Regions from separate parts of the Homo sapiens genome. Here regions 1, 2 and 3 are each linked to region 4. The links come from fine-mapping of genetic effects on gene expression. A gene starts in region 4. Each other region holds a variant in brackets. All regions are shown on one strand. Distances are from middle to middle.

Region 1 (5,154 bases), 530 kb after region 4:
TCTAGAGTCCCATGTCCCTGAGGCACCTCAGTCCGCCCAGGGCCTCGTGCTGATGCAAAGGGGCTGGGGAAGCAGGGAGGTGAGAGAATGGGAGGCAGGGACAGAGCCCAGCATGGGGCCCGGCTGCCTGCACCTGAGTGCTGGGGCCAGGGACAGACACACCCAGGTGTCCTTGGCCTCCTCTGTGACCTCAGAGCCAGTGGGTGCTTGGAGGACAGGGACCCCGGGGGGTGGCACCAGCCACACGCACCCAGGGAAAGCACGACCCTGCAGACACCTTTTCAGACTCTGGCCTCCAGAACTGGGGGAACATCCCTGTTTCAAGCCACCCCACTGTGGTTGTCCCACAGCAGCCCTAGGAGGCTGGCACTGGCAGGTGAGAGAAATCACCTATCCGGTCTTCAGGAAATCAGAGAACAGATAAAGTCACAGTAAACTCGATTCCTAAAATCCTACCACCACCATAGCCCTGGGAAGATGGGATGGAACTGCAGAAAGTGGTAGTCACAGGTCAATAAGAATTGACCTGCAAAGCCACAAGGTAAGGTTAGGAGTGCCCTGGAGACCAAACCCTGCCCCTGCATGGGAAGAGGGTCGGACACCGCAGGCCTAACAGTCCCATCCTGAAGGCCTGTGGACGCGGCCTGTTTTTCCAGCTCTATGGAGCCAGGCTAGACTCTCACCAACAGCCAAACCCCAGGCTCCTAAAAGAATGAGGAAAACTGCAGAGGTGCTTTTAGCTTTTGTCTCTAAGATTAATCAAACATTGAGCGGCATATAAAAAATCTAAATCTCCTGGAACTAATGTTCCTTCAGATATGGTTTCTAATTTTAAGTACCTGAGCTTGATTATTGATCACAATGTGTCTTTAAATGAACAGATTAAAACTTTCTCCATGAAAATGAACCATAAGAAATTACAGCTGCTCTCTGGGGAATACGGCACTGGCTGATTTCTAAACCTAAATTTTAGCCTGTGCAGAGTGCCGTCTCCCCCCACCTAGAGATCAGCTGCTCAATGTTCCCTCAACAACAGCTTCTCGTGCCTCCTCTTGGCCACGCAGCCCACCTGGGAACAATTCTGACGCCTTCCTCCATGATTTGTTGACTCCACTGAGGTCAAATGAGTGATGTTCATTGTTCTAATCTCAGAGTGTAGGTCCTTCCTAACAGAACTGCTTTTAAACACCGAACCCCAAGTTCCCCCAGTCTGGTTTAAAAATATTTTTACTCCTTTTAAAAGAGTAAAATTGTACAGATTGAGATGAAGTCTTGCTCTTGTCACCCAGGCTAGAGTGCATGGCGTGATCCCGGCTCACTGCAGCCTCTGCCTCCCAGGTTCAAGCAATTCTCTGCCTTAGCCTCCCGAGTAGCTGGGATTACAGGCGTACACCACCATTCCCGGCTAATTTTTGTATTTTTAGTAGAGACAGGGTTTCGCCACGTTGGCCAGGCTGGTCTCAAACTCCTGACCTCAAGTGATCCACCCGCCTCAGCCTCCCAAAGTGCTGGGATTACAGGGGTGAGCCACCGCGCCCGGCCTTAAGTGACATAACACCTCTAGTGAGGAAAGAAGCAGTGATCAATTCACTAACACTTATCAAATATAAAAAGTAATAATGAAACAATCAGCAGCCCCGCTGCCTTCGCGGCTCTGCCCTCCTGCACCAGCACCACCGACCTCGGCCACAGCTCCTGAGACCAGAGCCCAGTTCCTGGGGGGACCCGGCCCAGATGCTGTGGAGACGGCAGAGGGTGACAAGCGCACCATCTGCAAGGTAAGAACTGGAACTCCAGTCAGGAGGACAAGAGAAAACACGAGGCCGGGCTGAGTGGGGACCTGGGATGCTCAGCAACGACGCAGACAGTGTGGACGCCACCAACCCAATACAGAGACGCAGAGACGGAGGCGCAGGGCTGAGGTACCTGAGTCACAAGGCGTCATCTCATGGGCGCCATCTTCACAGAAAGAACCAAAGGTCCCCGGGCTGAGTGAAAAGTGTCCTCTGTCCCCAGAACCAAGAGGCCCACAAGGGGCCACCGCAGTTCTCTCAGACCGCACAGGCACGAGGAGGAGACCCCGCAGTTCTCTCAGACCACACAGGCACGAGGAGGAGACCCCGCAGTTCTCTCAGACGCACAGGCACGAGGAGGAGACGCCCCAGTTGGAGGAGACGCCCCAGTTCTCTCAGACCACACAGGCACGAGGAGGAGACGTCCCAGTTCAAGGAGACGCCCCAGTTCTCTCAGACGCACAGGCACAAGGAGGAGACGCCGCATGTCCCAGAAACCATCCTCCCAGTGGGAGAGCGTGGCCCCCGC[G/A]CAGGTAGCCGGCTTAAGGAGGAATCGTTAGGACCCGGGAATGGAGAGACGCACCTGGGGATCATCCTCTTCACTCTCGTGCGAAGGAATTTTACATTTTACCAGCGTGTTGCAGGGTAGACTTGGCCAGAGAAATATCAAGAGAAAGGGAGTTTTTGAGACGGGTTTTTCAGAAGAGAAATGAGATATGTGTGGCCTGGAAGTAATTTACTGAAAATAATCGGAAGCGGCTGAATATCCCACCCACCCCACCTGAGCCCAGCTGCCCCGTGAACCACCTGACCCCAGCGGGCTGCCCCGTGACACCCACCTGACCCCAACGGGCTGCCCCGTGACCCCACCTGACCCCAGCGGGCTGCCCCGTGACCTCCACCTGACCCCAGTGGGCTGCCCCATGACCCCACCTGGCCGCAGCGGGCTGCCCCATGCCCCCAGATGTCTCACGTCCCAAACGTCAGCAGTCAGGATGGCATCTACCCAGTCTCGGTCCATCCCGGCCACCACGCAGAACACGCTGGCCCACGACAGGAATCCGCTCCTCTTGGCGCTGGAGGCTGGAAGCCAAGGTCTCTGCTCCAGCAGTTTCCGCGTCTGGTGAGGCTGTGCTTCCCAGGTGGTAACGGCACCCTGTGCCGCGTCCTCCCATGGTGGAAGGGGCTGGGGAGCACTCTGGGAGGTGAGGATTCCATGTGAATTTTTGGGAACACAAGCATTCGGACCGCAGAGCCTGGGGGTGTGCACTGGGCTCCCTTCCCCTTGGCCTGACCTGTGTGAGCTCCTGGGGAAGCTGTGGGCAACCCAGAGACCCCTCAGGCTGTGCCACGGGCTCCCGTGAGTTGTCTCCCTCAGGCTGTGCCACGGGCTCCAGTGAGTTGTCTCCCTCAGGCTGTGCCACGGGCTCCCGTGAGTTGTCTCCCTCAGGCTGTGCCACGGGCTCCAGTGAGTTGTCTCCTGCTGTGAAGCAAAGCACCTCAGAACCCTAGGGCCACCTAAAACCTGTTGTTTTAGGTGGCCCTAAAACAACAAGGCCCTCGTGTACTCCCAAGCCCTCCCTTTGAGCTCGGGGGTTGGCTCACTTCATCTCCACGTGGCGCCAGCCGAGGCAGCCCCCGGGCAGCAGGGACCCCTTTCCTGGCAGATCAGCTGGGGCGGTTGGAGGCCCTGGATCCACTTCACGGACTCAGGAGTCTCTGCAGAATGGCGGCCGGGACCTAAGGGAGAACCCAGGAGGTCAGGGGACCCAGTCCCAGGTGGCATCATCCCAGCACCTCAGGCTGAGGCATCCCAAGCTGCAGAGGCTCAAGGCAGGTGCAGGCCCACCCTGTGGATGTCACAGTCACGTTGAGGAAATGCCTGTTGGGTGGGGTCACTGAGAGCCTAGCTGGTTTGTTTCCACCTTTGAACACAACACAGCTGCTGGCGAAGGGACGAACTGTCCATCAGCTTCCTCCTACGCATCAGTCACCTCCATCTGCACACCAGACCCGTGCTCAGCAATGCCAGGAGATTTAAACCACAGGCACCTGAGGGCCAGGCAGGGGCAGCCCGGCAGGAGGCAGTCACGATGGTGCTGGACACAGGAGGGGACCTTGGAGGGGACAGCTTGAAAGCCCTGTGGTTTTAGAGCAGTCACAAGCGTCCTACACAATGTGACGGGTGAGGCCGGCAGGAGCCAGTGAGGGGCGGAGCGTCCACGCGACAGAAGGTGCAGGTGGGGCAGCTGTGGCCTCCTGGCCCTGAGGGTGTCCCAGCAAGCCAGGCCCGCTTCAGAGGCACGAGAGCTGTGGGACCCATGGTCAGGCAGGCCAGGGTGTCAATAATGCACCATCATTTATGTAACCAGTTCCCTGTTAAGACGCACTCAGGTGATTTCCCATTTCTGCTTTGCCGTGCTTTGTCTGCTTTGCAATTACAAACAGCCCCTTCAAGACTGGCCCCATCCATATATCAGGCGTTCCATTGAGAATGCAGATGCTGGGTGAATTCCTAGCAGGTGTGTTATTGAGTCAAAAGGCTGTTGGCTTCTATTTCACCTTGAAAGGCCCCCAGAATAGGTCTGAGTGGCCTGGAAATGGGGTGGGGCCTGTATGCAGAGACGTCTCAGACTTATTACCTGTCTTGTCAAAAGGTGGGAGGAAGAAGGTGTGAGACAGGGTTTGGAGGTAGGGTGTGGAGGAAGGGAAATGTCACCCCCAGACTGGCCAGAGATTCAACTGTCCCCTGTGCTCTTCCAATGCCGTGAAAGGTAGATACAGTTACTGTGACCCCAGAACCAACACGGAGACGGTGGTTCTCGAACTGAGCAGCCTCAGAGCCACCTGGAGCCTCCTTAGAACTTGCACTGCCGGGCCTCACCCCAGAGTTCAAGAGCCAGCAGCTCCGGGGTGCAGCCAGGAATCTGCATTTCTATCAACTTCTCAGGTGATGCTCCATGGCTGGCCCAGACATCCCACTTTGAGGTCCACTGAGAAGACAGTCGCTCAGAGCAGCAAGAGAACGGTCAAGGGAGGCCCCACTGACCAGCATCACGACCTAACTGGTACCTGACTGTGTTGGCTCCAAATGTGCCGCTTTGCTGCAGAAGTCTTCAACCCTGGCTCACAGGAGAATCACGTGGGCGGCACCGAGAAAGCTGATGGCCGCACTGACTCCCCAGTCACACCAAAATCCTTGGGGGAGCCAGACCTCTGGAGATCCTCAAAGCTCCCAGATGATCCCAGCAGCAGGCCTGACAGCCAGCCCTGCAGAGCTGCAGACGCCGGGACGGGTGGCAGCTGAGGACTTTGCTGCAGGCTTCATGTAACTTTAGAGAGTTACTTCTCCTCACAGGGC
Region 2 (5,154 bases), 120 kb after region 4:
GGATTCTTGTCATTACTGAGTTGTAGGATTCTTTATATATATATTCTAGATAAAAGTTCTTTATCAGATATATAACTTGCAAATATTTTCAACCTGTATAAGATTTATTTTTTCATTAAAGATGTGTTTTGAAGCTCAAAGTTTTAAAAGTTGATGAAGTCCAACTTTTTGATATTTCCTTAATGAATTGTGCCTTTTATGTTGTGTCTAAGAATTATTTGCCAAATTCAAGCTAATAAAGATTTTTTCCTGTTTTCTTCTAGGAGTTTTAAAATTTTAGCTAGGGTCTTTAGGTCTGTGGTTCATTGTGCGTTTTGTGTATAGTGTAAGGTAATGGTGTATATTCATTTCTTTGAATGTGAGTATACAGTAGAACCAGAACCATTTCTTGAAAAGAGTATCCTTTCCCCATTGAAATTTCTTAGTACCTTTGGAGGAATTAGTTGCCCATGGATGTAAGCATTAATTCATGAACCCTCAACTCTGTTCAATTTATCTAGATTACCTTACCTTGGTAGTAAATTTTGAAATCAGCTAGTATAAGTTTTCCAACCTTTTTCTTTCTTTATTTTTTTGCAAAATTGTTTTTTACTATTAGATCCTTTGCATTTTATTTTCATACATATTTTAAGAGGAGCTTGACATTCTCTACAAAAAAAATCCTGGGATTTGAGATTTGGCAGAGATTGCATTGAATCCATGGATAATTTGGGATGAATTGTTATCTTGACATCTTGACATTACTGAGTCTTTAAATCCAGAAACATGGAATTTCTCCCTATTTACTTAGGTCTCCTTTGATTTCTTTCAGTAATGTTTTGTAGTTTTCAGTACACAAGTCTTGCATTTCACTGTTGTTGTTGTTGCTGTTAAGTGTGTTCCTAACACAGTGAAAACTCATCTCTACAAGTAATACAAAAACTAGCTGGATGTGGTGGCATGTGCCTGCTGTCCCAGCAATTCCAGAGGCTGAGGCAGGAGAACCACTCGAGCCTGGGAGGCCGAGGCTGCAGTGAGCTGTGATCATGCCACTGCTCTCCAGCCCAAGTGGCAGAGTGAGACCCTGTCTCAAAAAAAAAAAAAGAAAGAAAGAAAAAGAAAAAGAAGAAACTATTCCTAGTTATTTATTTTTGAGGCTCTTGTAAATGTAACAATGTTCTTGTTTTTCTTTTCAGATTGTTAGTAATATATAAAAAGACGATTGATATGTTTATACTAATCATATGTCCTGCAATCTTGCTAAAATACCTACTAGTTCTAATATATTTTTTGTTGATTCTATCAGATTTTCTACATAGATGTTCATGTCATCTACAAATGAATACATTTTAATATTTCCTATGCTGGATGCCTTGAATGATTGGCATGTTTGTTTATTTTGTTTGTTTTGTTCTCATACTTGCAAGGACCAGCAGTATACTGTTGAATTCAAGTGTGAAAGTAGACATCCTTCCCTTGTCCCTGATCTACAGGAAAGCACTCAGCCACTCATGACTAAGGATGGAGCTGGGCATGAGTGATTCATATATGCCCTTTTATAGCTTGCAGAAGTTCCATTGTACTCAGAGTTGTTAAGGGAGTTTGTCATGAATGAGTACTGGATTTTTCCAATACTTTTTTCTGCATGTATTGTGATAATCAGGTGTCTGATCTTTATTTGATTAATATAGTATATTACACTAGGTGATTTTTACATTTTAGGCCAACTTTTCACTGTAGGCGTAAATCTAACTTGGTCTTTACATACACCCTTTTCATATGGTGCTTGATTCAGTTAGGTGATGTTGTGTTAATAGTTTCACATCCATATTCATAAGAAATCTTGGGCTATACTTTTTGTGATATTTTTGTGCTTGCTATCAATATAATATTAGAACAACTGAATGAATGGAGAGTCGTCTCCCCTTCTGCATTTTCTAGAACAGTTTGTAAAAGATTGTTAGTATTTTTTCTTTATTTAACAAATTCACCAGTGACACCATTTGGGCCTGGGCCTTTTCTTGTGTAAAGGGATCTCTAATTGTTAGTTTAATTTTCTTAATTGTTATTTTTGTAGTTTTTTTATTTCCTCTTTAGTCATTTTTGGAAATCTGCGCATTTCCAGTAATTTCCCCCATCTCATCTAAGTTGCCTCATTTGGGCCATAAAGTTGCCCATAACATGTGCTTATGACCCCTTTAATTTTTGTAGATTGGTGATAATGTTTCTTCTTTCATTTCTAATTTTCATAATTTGTGTCTTCTGTCTTTTATTACTGGTCGGTCAATCTAAATATGTCAATTTGTTGATTTTTTTGGTTTTCTATTTCATGGATTTTTGCTCTAATCTTTATTATGTCTTACTTTGATTTTAGTTTGCTCTTATTTTTCTACTATATTCACATGGAAGCTTAGAATATTGATTTGAGATCTTCCTTTCTTTCTGATATAGGTGTTTAAAGCTATAAATTTCCCTCTACTGTCTTAGTTGCACCCCATAAATTTTAATATAATTTTGTTTTAGTGCAGTTAAATTTTTTTCTTATTTTTCTTGTTTTTCCTTTATTGATCCATGGGTTATTTAGAAGTATATTGTTTAATTTCTAAATATTTGCAGATTTTCCAGATTTCTTTCTGTTGTTCAATTCTGATTTACTTTCATTGTGGTCAAAAACATCATTATATGATGCCAGTTCTATTAAATGTATTGATTTTTTTTCTAATCTAGCATATTATCTATTCGTAAAATGTTTCTTGTCCTTAAAAACAATATGTGGGCAGGGAATGGTGGCTCATGCCTGTAATCCCAGCACTTTGGGAGGCCAATATGGGCAGATCTCTAGGTCAAGATATTGAGACCCTCCTGGCCAACATGGTGAAACCCCATCTCTACTAAAAATATAAAAATTAGCTGGGCATGGTGGCATACCCCTGTAATCCCAGCTACTTGGGAGGCTGAGACAGGAGAATTGCTTGAACCTGGGAGGTGGAGGTTGCAGTGAGCCAAGATCGCACCACTGCACTCCAGCCTGGTGACAGAGCGAGACTCTGAAAAAACAAAAATACATGTTCTGCAGTTATTACATGAAGTGC[T/C]TATTTTTGTTAAATAGATTGAGTTGATTAATACTGTCATTTAATTTTCCACCTAATTGTTCTATCAATAAATAATACAGCAAATGTAGTTTTTTTAGAGTCATTGTATGGTGCGTATTTTTTCTTTTTTTTTTTTTTTTTTTACTTTCAATGTATTTGTGTCTTTGATTCTAAAATGTATCTTGTAGACAGCATGTAGCTAAATCTTACTTATTTATCTAATCTGATGATCTCTGCTCTTTTTATTTGGGTGTTTAGACCATTCATATTTAATGCAACTAATGATATGGCTGGATTTACATTTACCATTTTGCAATTTATTTTCCACATGTCTCTCGCCTTCTCAATCTCTTCCTGAATAACTGAGTGTATCACTTTAACTCCTCTGTTGATTATTTTACACCATTCATTCCTCCAAGCCAGGTGATCCATTAATTGCAGCCAAGAAGCTACAGTTCCTTCGCAGCCTGCCTTAATCTGACAGAACTTCTACAAGCTGCAGGGGGCAGGGGTTTCAGCTGTATAGTTGCTTTTGGAGGAGAGGGTTTAATTTTCTCTTCAAATGGCCATTGCTGGAAATCTCGCCTGTGATTTGTTTTTAGTGGCTTTAATGTTTTTGTTGTTGAGCCTGCCACAATGATCTCTCCAACAAAACAATACTCTTTTATTTGTATTTAATTCATTGAGAAACTGTCGATTACCACGTCACAGATTTTTAACTACCTCAAACTTGCTAGGTGGCACCACTTAAGATCTGACTTTTGGGAGCCTGAGAGGGGAGCATCACCTGAGCCCCAGGGATGGAGGTTGCAGTCAGCCAATATTGGGCCACTGCACTCCAGCATATGTGAAGTGCAAGACCCTCTCTCAAAAAAAAATCTGATTTTTAAACCTAGTGACACTGTACTTGAACAAAAAAAATGACTTGTTGAAAGTAAAAATTACTTTTGCAAATTATTATGAAGTGTCTTATGGTTGAATAATCAGAATTTTCTATAGGTATGTGAATTTTCAGGGTTGGTAGAATCTTCTCATTCATCTTAAGTTTGAAGCATTATTGGACTTATTAAAAAGGTGATAAGCTATACATACTTTTACAATATCCACTAAACAGTTATAATTTGGGGTTGTTGAATGGCAGTAAAGAGGTTATAGTCATGGTGGTGGATTTTTTAAAGTAAAGCTGGACTTATAGGATCTTAAATAAGAAAAGTTCATAAACAAGCCTGCTCTTCTAATTTACAGAGCAATTCTGTGACTCACCTAAAGGCATTCTGTTAGAGTAAAGGCTGGAACTTAGGTACACCTGTTTGGGCAGGCAGCAGATGGCACACTCAGAGGGTTAAGTAAGAAATTTAATAAAGGAAGTCGTCTTAAAGGTGCAGAGAATGTCACAGAAACTAAAGGGCATGATGAAGCTCCCGGGGAGATGCAGCCTTAGGGGAAAAAAGTGGACAGCAATTCACTGAACTCAGGGAAATCTGTAGTTGGAGGGGAAGAGCCGTCCAACAAAAGTTTTGAGCTTAAGAGAAACACAGCAACTGTCAAACAGACTGGAAGGAAAACTAACCCTTGAGCCTCCCTCCCTATCACTGAAACCAACAGAATGCAAAACCCTCTGAGGCCAGTTCCCAGGATGCAGAGCTCAGCAGGGTGGTGTGGAGTGTGTCTGCACAGGCAAACAAACATCTAGCGACAGAATGCAACCCTCTGAGGCCAGTTCCCAGGATGCAGAGCACAGCAGGGCGGTGTGGAGTGTGTCTGGACGGGCACACAAACATCTAGCAACAGAATGCAGCCCTCTGACGCCAGTTCCCAGGATGCAGAGCTCAGCAGGGCAGTGCAGAGTGTGTCTGGAGAGGCACACAAACATCTAGCGACAGAATGTAACCCTCTGAGGTCAGTTCCCAGGAGGCAGAGCACAGCAGGGCGGTGTGGAGTGTGTCTGGACGGGCACACAAACATCTAGCGACAGAATGCAACCCTCTGAGGTCAGTTCCCATGAGGCAGAGCTCAGCAGGGTGGTGCGGAGTGTGTCTGGACGGGCACACAAACATCTAGCGACAGAATGCAGCCCTCTGAG
Region 3 (5,129 bases), 490 kb after region 4:
TGGATGAAGCTAGAAACCATCATTCTCAGCAAACTATCACAAGGACAAAAAACCAAACACCGCATGTCCTCACTCATAGGTGGGAATTGAAGAATGAGAACACATGCACACAGGAAGGGGAACATCACACACCGGGGCCTGTTGTGGGGTGGGGGGAGGGGGGAGGAATAGCATTAGGAGATATACCTAATGTTAAATGACAAGTTAACAGGTGCAGCACACCAACATGGCACATGTATACATATGTAACTAACCTGCACGTTGTGCACATGTGCACCCTAAAACTTAAAGTATAATAAAAAAGAAAAAGAAAAAACAAAAAATAAGTAAATAAATAAAAATCTTCCTATTTCTCATTTGTAATGTGTGGTACTCAAGCACATTTTCTGGCTTCTTCCTCTCCCTCATCTTCTGTGTAAATTTCCCAAATCCTGTGGATTCGGTCCTTGCTGTGCTCTCTGGGTCCCTCCCACCAATCCACTCCTGAGGGTGCTTCCTAAGTCCTCATGCACCATGTCCAGCCCCAGCCTCCCACCCAGTGTCCTGGCCCCTTCTCTCCTCCTGTGCAACCCAGCACTCACTCATGGGCAACAGTACTGCTGTCCTTCCGGAAAACCCTTTCACAGCTCCCATTGTCTATTGGTGAAGAGCTAGATCTTCAGGGTGGTACTCAAGGCGTCTGTGACTGATTTCCACCCACCTTTGAAGCTTCGCCACTTTCCCACACACATCTCCTACGGGCTCCAACGGCCCGTAGAATACGCAGATTATGCAGAATATGCCTGTGCCCTTTCCTATCCGTGCCTCTGACCACCATGCCCACTCTGCCTAGGACGCCTCCTCCTGCCACCTGTGCAGAAGCTCCCTGGGTGTGAGTCCGTCTCTCCCTTTTCCTCCCTCACTGTCATGCTGGTGACATTCCATGTACAGCACTTCCGCGACATTTCTCATACGACATCTCATGCTGCAGCCGTTTCTGACCGCGTCATCTCCCTCGGTCCAGGCTTCGCGTCTCCTGTGTTGGGAACGTGGTGCTGGCGGTGGGGGTGAGAATCATGAAAACTGAATATGCAAACACTTCTTGGGCCACGTAATTGTGCTGAGTGTGGCAGAGTCTGGAGCCAAACGGAGCTGGGAATCAATGAGGGGTAAAGGGAAAGCAGTTGCTTTTTTCTACAGCTCCAATTTCCACGGAATCCAAAGAGAAGGAGCAGGCCGGGGCCTCACAGGCCACAGCACCTATTCCTGAAGAGCTGTCCGTTTCCACCAGAGACTGCATGCGCACCGGTCGTGAACACTGAAACTGGTTAGGAATCGTTATCAATGTGTTTCCCATTTCTCTAAATACCAGCTTTAACGAAGCTGGAACCTGAGGGGTGGTTTCTGCATCACGATGTCATCCTTGTGAACCATTTCTCAACAGTCCACATGTCACTGACGGCCTGAGTGAGATGGTGGCTCCCACCCCTGGCAGAGTCAGTAGCAGCTGCCCACCCCAGCTCCCTGTAGCCTTAGATCCTGGTCCCATCTGCTCGTCAACTTCTGGGACCCCCGCTAGGGGGCAGCCCCCGCACCCAGGATGGCTGAGAGAGGAGGAGGCCTGGACCTGGAACCCGGCAGCTGCTCACGAGCTTTCCTGGGGGAGGAACCTCAGGGCGGCTGGTCGTGTCCTGTTCTGATTAAAGCGGCGTGGGGAAGTCTGGTCACTTCCTGAGCTCAGGAGCAGTCCCGTCCCACCAGGGAGGGGGCAGTGGGTAGACAACAGGACCAGGACCATGGAGTTCTCTTCGGGCACAGAAACGGGGGCTGCTGGGAGAAGCTGGGATGAGCGGAGAGAGCAGTGGACATGGGCAGGAGGCGGGGGCTGTGCTAGACCGCTTTGCCTGGAAGGAAGGAGGCTGGACAGACAGACCCCAGCTGCAGAGCCATGGGGGCAAGGATGCTGCTGGGCCTCTGCAGGTTACTTCCCCAGTGCTCGGTCCCTCCCGGCCCCGAATTCTCCCTGGCTGTCACTGGTAGCTGCTGACACCACCCTTTTATCTCACGAAGAAAGATCCCACGGTGAGGCCCAGAGAGGGCAGATGCCCTCAGGGCTCAAGAACTAAGTTCTCAGGGGAGAAAAAGTCACATCAGAGGAACAAGTGTGTGAGAAGCGAGAAGCGCTCATGACCAGCCAGCACTGTTTTTATTTAAGATGGGAGGGAAGCCTGCTTCTGGCGTGACATTAATTAGTCGATTTTATTTAAGATGGGAGGGAGGCCTGCTTCTGGCGTGACATTAATTTGTGTGTCACCTCTTCCAAGAAATGGTCCGGACGTGTATTTACAGGTAACTCTGTGGACGTGGCCGCGGTCAGCGGCTAACGCGTCTCCGTGCTGCCCTCCCTTGGCCTGCGATCCGGGCCCAGCCAGTGGCTGTCACATCCCAAGGCTCCTGGGCACCCGCAACATTCCTGCCACCTCCAGCCGAAGGGCCTGGATGATGGATTTGTTATTGGATCGGCAACACTGACCCGTCTAATGACACGGACTCCCTAGGGAGCCCTTGCTTGGAGTATTTGGTGGAAATTCTGACTCGTGTCCTCAAGGAATTCACCATCTAAGTGCAGAGAAAATACACATCCACACAGACCTGTTAGAGCACAGCAAACATTGGCTTGTGTCTTCCAGCTTCTCCTCCTTAAACAAAGTGATGAATATTATACTTTAAGGACATTACGTTGGGGGTTGTTTTTGAGGTTTCTTTGTTGTTTGTTTTCAGTCCCTGAAGAGAGTATCATTTTTGTGGATGGGGTTCCTTTGACTATGGTTAAAATGACACATCCAGCCTCCTTTCTGTGTTAGTATGACAGGTTCATCAGCTCCTGTCCTGTGTTTCTGTGTTAGGGTGAAGGGTTCATCAGCTCCTGTCCTGCCCTGATCCCGTTGGAGGACAGGAGAAAGCACAAAGGTGGTTAGAGGTTGGGCAGGAAGCCCAGGCCGCAGCTAGCACTGCTCCCACTCACAGGGGACCTGGGACTCAGGTGGAGAAAACTG[T/C]CCTGGTAGTAAGTTTGACCTCAAAACTCTGCTCCTATGGTGCCTAAGGAGCATTTCAGCAACCTTAAGGATAGCAGAGGCACTCTGAGCGCTGTCTCAGGCCACCATGAAGTAGATGGGAATCCCTCAGGCGGGCGGTCACCCGTGACAGCCTGGAGCACACAGAAGCCTCGCTTCCCAGCTCTCAAAACGCAGTGTTTCCAAGGTTTCCTAACCCAGGGAAACCGCTGTTGTGAGACCCTGAAAAGACCGAGGAGGAGGGAGACGGGGGCCGTGGGCCACGCTGCTCTGATGCTATCTGTGTCCCCAGGCCTGGATGCTCGGCAGGCGCAGGTCGTGGCCCTGTCCTCGGGGACCAAGTGCATCAGCGGCGAGCACCTCAGTGACCAGGGGCTGGTGGTGAATGACTGCCACGCGGAGGTCGTGGCCCGGCGGGCGTTCCTGCACTTCCTCTACACGCAGCTGGAGCTGCACCTGAGGTGAGCGGCTGGGGACGGGCTCCAGGGAAGGCGGACGCCGCGGCTGGGGGCTGCCAGGGAGCAGATGGGGCCCCATGCCTGGCTCAGAACACGCTTCCCTCTATCCTGGCACAGGGTGAGCCAGAAAGCATCCCTTTTTATTCAGACTAGAGACATCCCTGGCACACCAATAAAGCCGCCGTGTGCGCTGGGAAGATGCTAAAATTCCAGGCTTCCTCCTTACTCCACGTTTCCCTCCAGAAAACACCTTTGCAGCCCTCGTCCTTCCGGGCAAGGCCACCCTCTCCTGGCCTCGGTTCCCCATGCCCCCCACATTCCTGCACTGCCCCCTTTTCCGCCGTTGCCCTCAGAGAACGTGAGTGCAGTGCCCAAGGGGTGGCTTGGAGACGCGCTGTCTTCTTGCCTCCTGTGCCAAGTACATGTGAAGAGGCCGCTGAGGCCTTGAGAACTGTGCCCCAGTATTGGGATTCCCAGGGTTCCCTGGCCTGCTCTGGCCATCAGGCATTGGTGGCTGTCATGGGGCAGCCTCCTGTCCCTGAGACACTTTAGAGAGGAGCAAAACCCAGGTGGTTTGCAGCACGTGGCCTCCGCGACACACCCCCAGGCTGGGCCATTCAGTCCCAAGGGCTCACTGTGGGCTCCTCTCCTGAAACGCTCCCTCCTGTGTCTGCTGTCTACTCTTTCACATCCCTTGAAGCCATCTGCGTTCCTCAAATCTACGAGTAATGGGACCTTGGGGGGCTTTGGCAAGGGTCATCTCCATGCCCATTAGCTGTGCAAAAGCCACACAAAAGGAGAAAGGCCCACGTGTAGCCCTAAGCAGACGCTGCTGAAAACAACACCTTAACACACTCAGCTCATTCTTTTTTTTTGAGATGGAGTCTTGCTCTGTCGCCCAGGCTGGAGTGCAATGGCATTATCTTGGCCCACTGCAACCTCTGCCTCCCGGGTTGAAGCAATTCTCCCACCTCAACCTCCTGAGTAGCTGGGTCTACAGGCGTTCACCACCACGCCTGGCTAATTTTTGTATTTTTAGTAGAGACGGGGTTTCATCACGTTGTCAAACTCCTAACCTCAAGTGGTCACCCTATCTCGGCCTCCCAAAGTGCTGAGATTACAGGCATGAGCCACTGTGCTCAGCCCACACTCAGCTCATTCTTATCTGAGCCTCTGAGCAGGGAGCCACAGGTTGAACCCATCCCTCAGTTCCCTGAGGCCTGCGGGGTGCAGCAGGAGTTGGATATGGGGGAACAGAAATATCTCAGAATGTAGGGAAGGATTTCTCCTAAATGTCCACCTGCTCAACTGGGACTATCACCAAGATCCCTCACTCTTGTTTGTGTCAGAGAAGGCAACTGGACCAATATTTACCAGGAGCTGGTTACATGCTTGGTGCTGTGCCACCAGCTGGGGGGGTCCACAGACAGGTGCACCCGACGCCTGCCCTGCATGGGGAACCAGCACAGGGGAGGGGGAGTCCAGGGCAGCCACGTGGCTGACAGGCCCTGTGCCGGGGCCCAGGCTTGGGATACATTTGCCAAGGGTCCTGGGGGAGGCAGCCGGGGCAGTGGGGGATGGTGGCTGTGGGCAGAGTGCAGGCACAGAGGCAGGAAGA
Region 4 (5,154 bases):
AACAGGCAGGAGGTGAGGAGGCTCATCGGGGAATGGCAGCTTACCAGCACTGCTCACTCGCAGCCCTGCTTGCAACAGCAGAGTGAGACGTGCTGGAAACCACGCTGGAGTTAACGCACTTGTCGCTGCGAGCCTCTTCTTTAAAGCCCCTCTGTGATGAGAAACAAAGGCTTTCTCGCCTAGCCGTCGCCCTAGCATCATCTATTATGCATCGTCTTATGCAAAATAAATAAAATACAGAAAACAGCAAGTATCTGTGAAAACAGCATTTTCATAAATTATACAAAAAAGAACCAATTGGAGGAACTTCAAGAAAAAGGTTTGCCAAAATTTCGATCGTAACTTTCAAATTAGGGTCTAAATGAAGTGTTCAAAGACAGTTTTCAGTTTTGTTTCCCCACTCCACCAACATCAGAAGAACATTTAACAGACACGTTACTTTCCGGCCACCATACCTGCCCTTGGAGTGAAACAAGGGTTCATGTATACGAGTCTCCCAGACAGCACGGTTGCTCCGTGTGATGATGGAGCTATTGGGGCCATTAATAAATGCTGACCACCTTGTGGGGGCTGTGTGTGTGTGTGAAGCTCTTCTGAAGCACCTTCCTTCGGTGACTCCACCCCCTGATGGGTTTTCTGCAGATACAGAAATAGGGCAACTCTGGATTAGTGCAGCACATTGTGTGAAGCTCAGAAGTTTCACAGGCAGAGTCCTAGAGCTGTGTTTCTCGATATAGTTTAAGCACTCAAATATCTCGGGTATTGCAGAGAGGAAGTGAGAGAGCTATGTGCCTTCTCAACCCTCGCTGGGAATTATCAGCAGAGCTGAGCTGTGCTGTCATGGGAACAGGGTTGTTGAAGCCAGCCCTGAAGAGGGATGTTGGTTTGATTGTGGTCCTCAGTCTGAGTTGGACTAGAAGGTTCAACATTCTAAAAGGAAAACGCAGAAGCCCTGTCTTTCTGAGGCTTGTCTGCAACATACGCTCATTCCTTCCAAATTATTTGCTGGAAAAAATTTAATAAATAATCATAGAGTAATTAACATGTTCCAGTTCCTGTCTATACTGGTTGATACTGATTCAACGAGTATGAATGAACTTATGAGGTGGGTGACGTTGTTATCCCCAGTTTACAGATGAGGAAACTGAGGCACGGTTTAACTTACCCGAGGTCATAGCAGTAGAGTTAAGATTTGAAATCAAATGTCTTACTCTCTCTCATCAATGAAAACTGAGCTACGATCTATCAGCTCAGCACATAACAACACAGGATCATCCTAATTATTTCCAATGTCCCCCAGAGTGATTCTTTTTTCTTATGATAAAAATTATCTGGAAATTTCTAGGCACATAAGCAGCTGAAAAGGTTGCATGTGAGGCAATGAATAGCAGAAATATTTGTGTGCCATTTTTATATCAACATGTTAATGTGTGCTAATGAATTTTAGAGTGGATTTTTTTAAAAACATGACTATTGTAATTAAAAGCTTATGTGATTTAAATACAAGATGCAATGATGATTACCAGATTCTATTCCTCTTTATATTTTACATAAGACTTCCAGGGTTCCATAAGTATAATCTTGAAACATAGGACATTCCTGGAAAAAAAAATTGCTTAAAACTATTTCAGTGTGCAATCCACCTCTTTGTAAATGTTACTTTCTTCCATCCAAATATTACATTTGGCAACAAAACTCTCCGCTGAGAGCTTTCTCTTCCTTTTGTGTCATTGTTCCCTAAATAAAGCAACACATGAAATTCCTGACGGCAAAAATCAGACTCAGATCCCAAAACCTCTGTCTTTATGCAAGATTTATCTTTTGCATTGGAAACGGCCAAGGAATATGAAGAGGGGAAAGAAGAGGCAAACAGACAAGCATGCAGGCTCTGAGGAATAAATGCCCCTCAGGACGCTGTCTCCTGGGGAATTGCAAACCTCAGTCCGTTTCTGAGGAAGTGCGGTCTCTGCATTTCTGAAAGAGGTATTTCCCCCCCTTGACACAAGGAGCATGGTAATGAATTGACTAGTTAAAAACTGTTGGTTGGAAAAACCCGTCCCTGTGTCTTTCTGAGCAGGGCGAGCTGAGCTGTCCGCGAGGCTGCGGCAGGAGGCCTCGTCCTCCCGGGCAGGGTCCCTCCTGGAGGCTCCCCCGGTCTCTCCCAGACGCACCCGCGCCGCGTCCTTGTTCCCCGGGAGCAGCCTCCCTCCAGCCGCCGGTCCTGGGAGCTTCACCGTCCAAACGGGAGCTGAGTTTGCAAGCGGCCAGGCGGCGGTGCGGCTGGTGCTGCTGCTGATGTCAGAGCCAGAAAGCAGTTGTGATTGGATCTAATTAGACGCTGCTGCAGCAAATAGACAAGCTCCCTGCGTGATTGGCTTCAAAGTGGCTGGTGCCAAACAACTAGCAGAGGCGCAAAAGTAGCCTCCCTGCGCTGGGAGCCCAGAGCAGGAGGCAGAGCCCGCGGGAAGCTCGGAGCACTCAGGACGCCGCGCGCCCTTCCCCGCCCTCCCTGACCAGGGAGCAGCTCGCTCCAGGCGCCCAGCCGAGGCCCCCAGCCCAGTGGGAGCAAGTCATAGAGAACAATTCGAGAGACAGAGAGACGGAGCGCGCTTTCCTGCTCAGTCCTGAAAAGTGAGCCGCTCCCGGGTTTGCAACCTCAAGCTTCGCAGCAGCGGCGGCGGCGGCTGCCGGGAAGGAGGCAGGTGCAGGTGCAGGAGGGAGGCGGCTCTGGGCTCCGCGCCTGGGTCTCGGCCATGGCCTCGGTCCTGGGGAGCGGCAGAGGGTCTGGAGGGCTGAGCAGTCAACTCAAATGCAAGTCCAAGAGGAGGAGGAGGCGGAGGTCCAAGCGGAAAGGTAAGGACCGCGTGGCGCGCCGGCCCCTGCCCCCCTTCACCCCCGGCTTCTCCACCCCGGCCTCTCATGGGGTCTCCGGGCTTGTCCGTTGTGAGCAGCTTCACTTTGGGGTGCTGGCGGGATGGCTGCTCCGTGCAGGGCGCTCGGGAGTTCAGATCCCGTGGAAATGTCTGGGGCCTCCTCTTGCCCAGAGGGGACAGTGAGCAGCCACGCTGCGACATGTTTGAGGGACCCGGACGAAGTGGGGCGAGGGCGGCGAGGAGCTCCCCGGGGACCCCGCGCGTCTCCGGGCCCCGCAGTCCCCAGTGGCCGGCCGGGCTGGCACTGCCTTCCACCCTCCGGAGGCCATCTCGTCTCCCAGTGCCAAAGGAATTACCCAAAAACGGGGGAACGAGCCCTCGCGCCAGCTACTCCCATCCAAACTGTCCCGGAGGAAGGGATAGGCGAAGCCCTGCGATCGCCTCTCCAAATTGGCTGGCAGTTTTTACTCAATGTGGTGCCCGTCGATTTGTAAACATTGGGTCGTAAAGAGAACACAGGGCTCGTCCTTGGAGAAATAAGCAGAAATGAATACAGGAAAACAGAAAGAAGCATCATATTTTGTTAGTGGTAGAAAAAAACCGCAAACCAGGAAAGCAGGAAAAGCAGCCGGCTGACAGCGGCCACTGACAAACTCAGCTGTGCCTTGTTACTGATATTCCTGGGGCTGGGCCGCGCTGAAGTTAGTCAATGCTACAGCAAGGGAGGGCTTTCACACTGGGGATTTTGCAAAATTAGCAATCGCTCCAATATGAGAGCAATGCCCCCAGTGCCATCGTAGCCTGTGTGCATGCCAGGAAGAATTAAAAGATTCTTCTCATGCCGACCCTTCTCTCCTAGAGGAACCTGTGTTATTGTCAGTTCCTAGTGAGCCTGCAGGAGAAAGTTCAGTTCTAATCATGATTTGAAATGTGCTGATTTTTTTTAAGTGAGGTAGAAGTATAAAGAACGGTTGGAAAAACACAGCTAGAATTGATCAGCTTTGCCAGTTGTTTGAAAGCAGGAGGCAACGTTAGGTGTGTTTGGGGTTGTCCATCTTTCCTGAAGAATTTTCATCTTTGCATTGGCCTAAGATAAGTTTCTACCAGACCGTTTCCTGTGTGCCCTCGAACCGTCACCAGGTCCTTTATTGCCTCTTCCAATAATAGAAATTATCCAGACAGTCAGCAGGCATAAATGTCAATAGCAAACAGTCATTCATTATGACCGAACGTCAGGACCACTGGGAGGGATTGGCCCCCACAACTTCCTCAAAAGGTTTTGGAGCCTTTGGTTTCAGAAGGGAGGTGATGTTGTGGTTCTCATTTACCTCTCAGCTGCTAAGTGTGCGCTTGCGATTCACTTTGTTGTTTGAAATTATCATTTTGAAACAGACCTGTTAGTGTCCTCCAAAGATAATGCCAACACAAAGTGGCATTGATATTGAGAAAGTCACCGGATTGAATAATGAATATGACTTTTAAAAGAGGAAAAAGGAAGCATCATCTTTACACTTGAAATGTTCACATTTCCCAATATTTTTTGATTAGTCTATTTAAATATTTAGAGTTGAAGAATGTGGAGTAATAGTTCGCAATAATGCATTTTATAAATATAAACAGGAGGAAAGTGTTGCCTTTCTCCAAATTCACTTGCCTTGCCAGGAAGCGTCAGTCATGCTAGCTTAGAAAGTATTCAATTTAGGGGGAAAAAGGAAATCTGGGGAAAGACTTCATTTGCTATAAACTTAACTTTAGCAATTCAAAATAAAACTCCTATAGCAAATATTTCCATACCTTGGTTATTTTGAATATGTCAAGTCCCTTAATTTTCATAGCCAAAAATTGAAGCGGGAAAGGGCATTCAGGTTTTGTACACTGATTTCTGTTACGAAGAGATTTCTGGCGTGCGGGAGAATTTCCCAGGGCACCTGCCGGCAGCTATCTTGATAGGAAAGTCAAATCAAACGGCTAAAGATTCAATTTTTGGGGAAACGTTAACCATGTAGATGTAACTGATCAAATTAAAAGGTAAAGTAACCAGCTAAGAGACACATTAAATAATTATTTGCATTTTCCTGGGAATTGATTACTTCATCTATGATACCTAGTTATTACAGATGCTGATATTTTTTATTTTATAAAAACAATGGTGAGTTTAAATTATGTTCTAATTGTCATGAATCTTAACAACCATAAATGAATAGAATAACCTCAATTTTAAGCTTATCTGATATTAAAACTCTATACTTGCCACAATTTAAAATCCACGTGTGTATGAGAG

The links. PIP is the estimated chance that this variant, and not a neighbour inherited with it, causes the effect. A credible set is the group of variants that fine-mapping cannot tell apart.
Region 1: its variant is the best candidate, but not a certain one, in a credible set for the expression of ADARB2 in spinal cord (GTEx, PIP 0.78).
Region 2: its variant is the best candidate, but not a certain one, in a credible set for the expression of ADARB2 in lung (TOPMed, PIP 0.66).
Region 3: its variant is the best candidate, but not a certain one, in a credible set for the expression of ADARB2 in prefrontal cortex (GTEx, PIP 0.85).

The regions. Positions count from the first base shown.
Region 1 is chr10:1,203,453-1,208,606 of GRCh38, reverse strand. All of the region lies in intron 7 of ADARB2 (adenosine deaminase RNA specific B2 (inactive)), which reads left to right. Among named protein-coding and RNA genes, the nearest start is that of LINC00200, 46 kb to the right of the region's middle. The variant G/A (reference allele first, on the strand shown) is at 2,323.
Region 2 is chr10:1,617,350-1,622,503 of GRCh38, reverse strand. The region is part of intron 1 of ADARB2 (adenosine deaminase RNA specific B2 (inactive)); the gene reads left to right. Among named protein-coding and RNA genes, the nearest start is that of ADARB2-AS1, 93 kb to the right of the region's middle. The variant T/C (reference allele first, on the strand shown) is at 3,072.
Region 3 is chr10:1,240,516-1,245,644 of GRCh38, reverse strand. ADARB2 (adenosine deaminase RNA specific B2 (inactive)) reads left to right here. Exons shown (of 10, transcript NM_018702.4): 5 at 3,346-3,514. Among named protein-coding and RNA genes, the nearest start is that of LINC00200, 83 kb to the right of the region's middle. RefSeq lists enhancers at 3,013-3,523, 3,524-4,035. The variant T/C (reference allele first, on the strand shown) is at 3,036.
Region 4 is chr10:1,734,750-1,739,903 of GRCh38, reverse strand. It overlaps ADARB2 (adenosine deaminase RNA specific B2 (inactive)), which reads left to right and starts at 2,379. Exons shown (of 10, transcript NM_018702.4): 1 at 2,379-2,853. The coding sequence starts at 2,754. RefSeq lists a silencer at 2,430-2,489 and an enhancer at 2,451-3,047.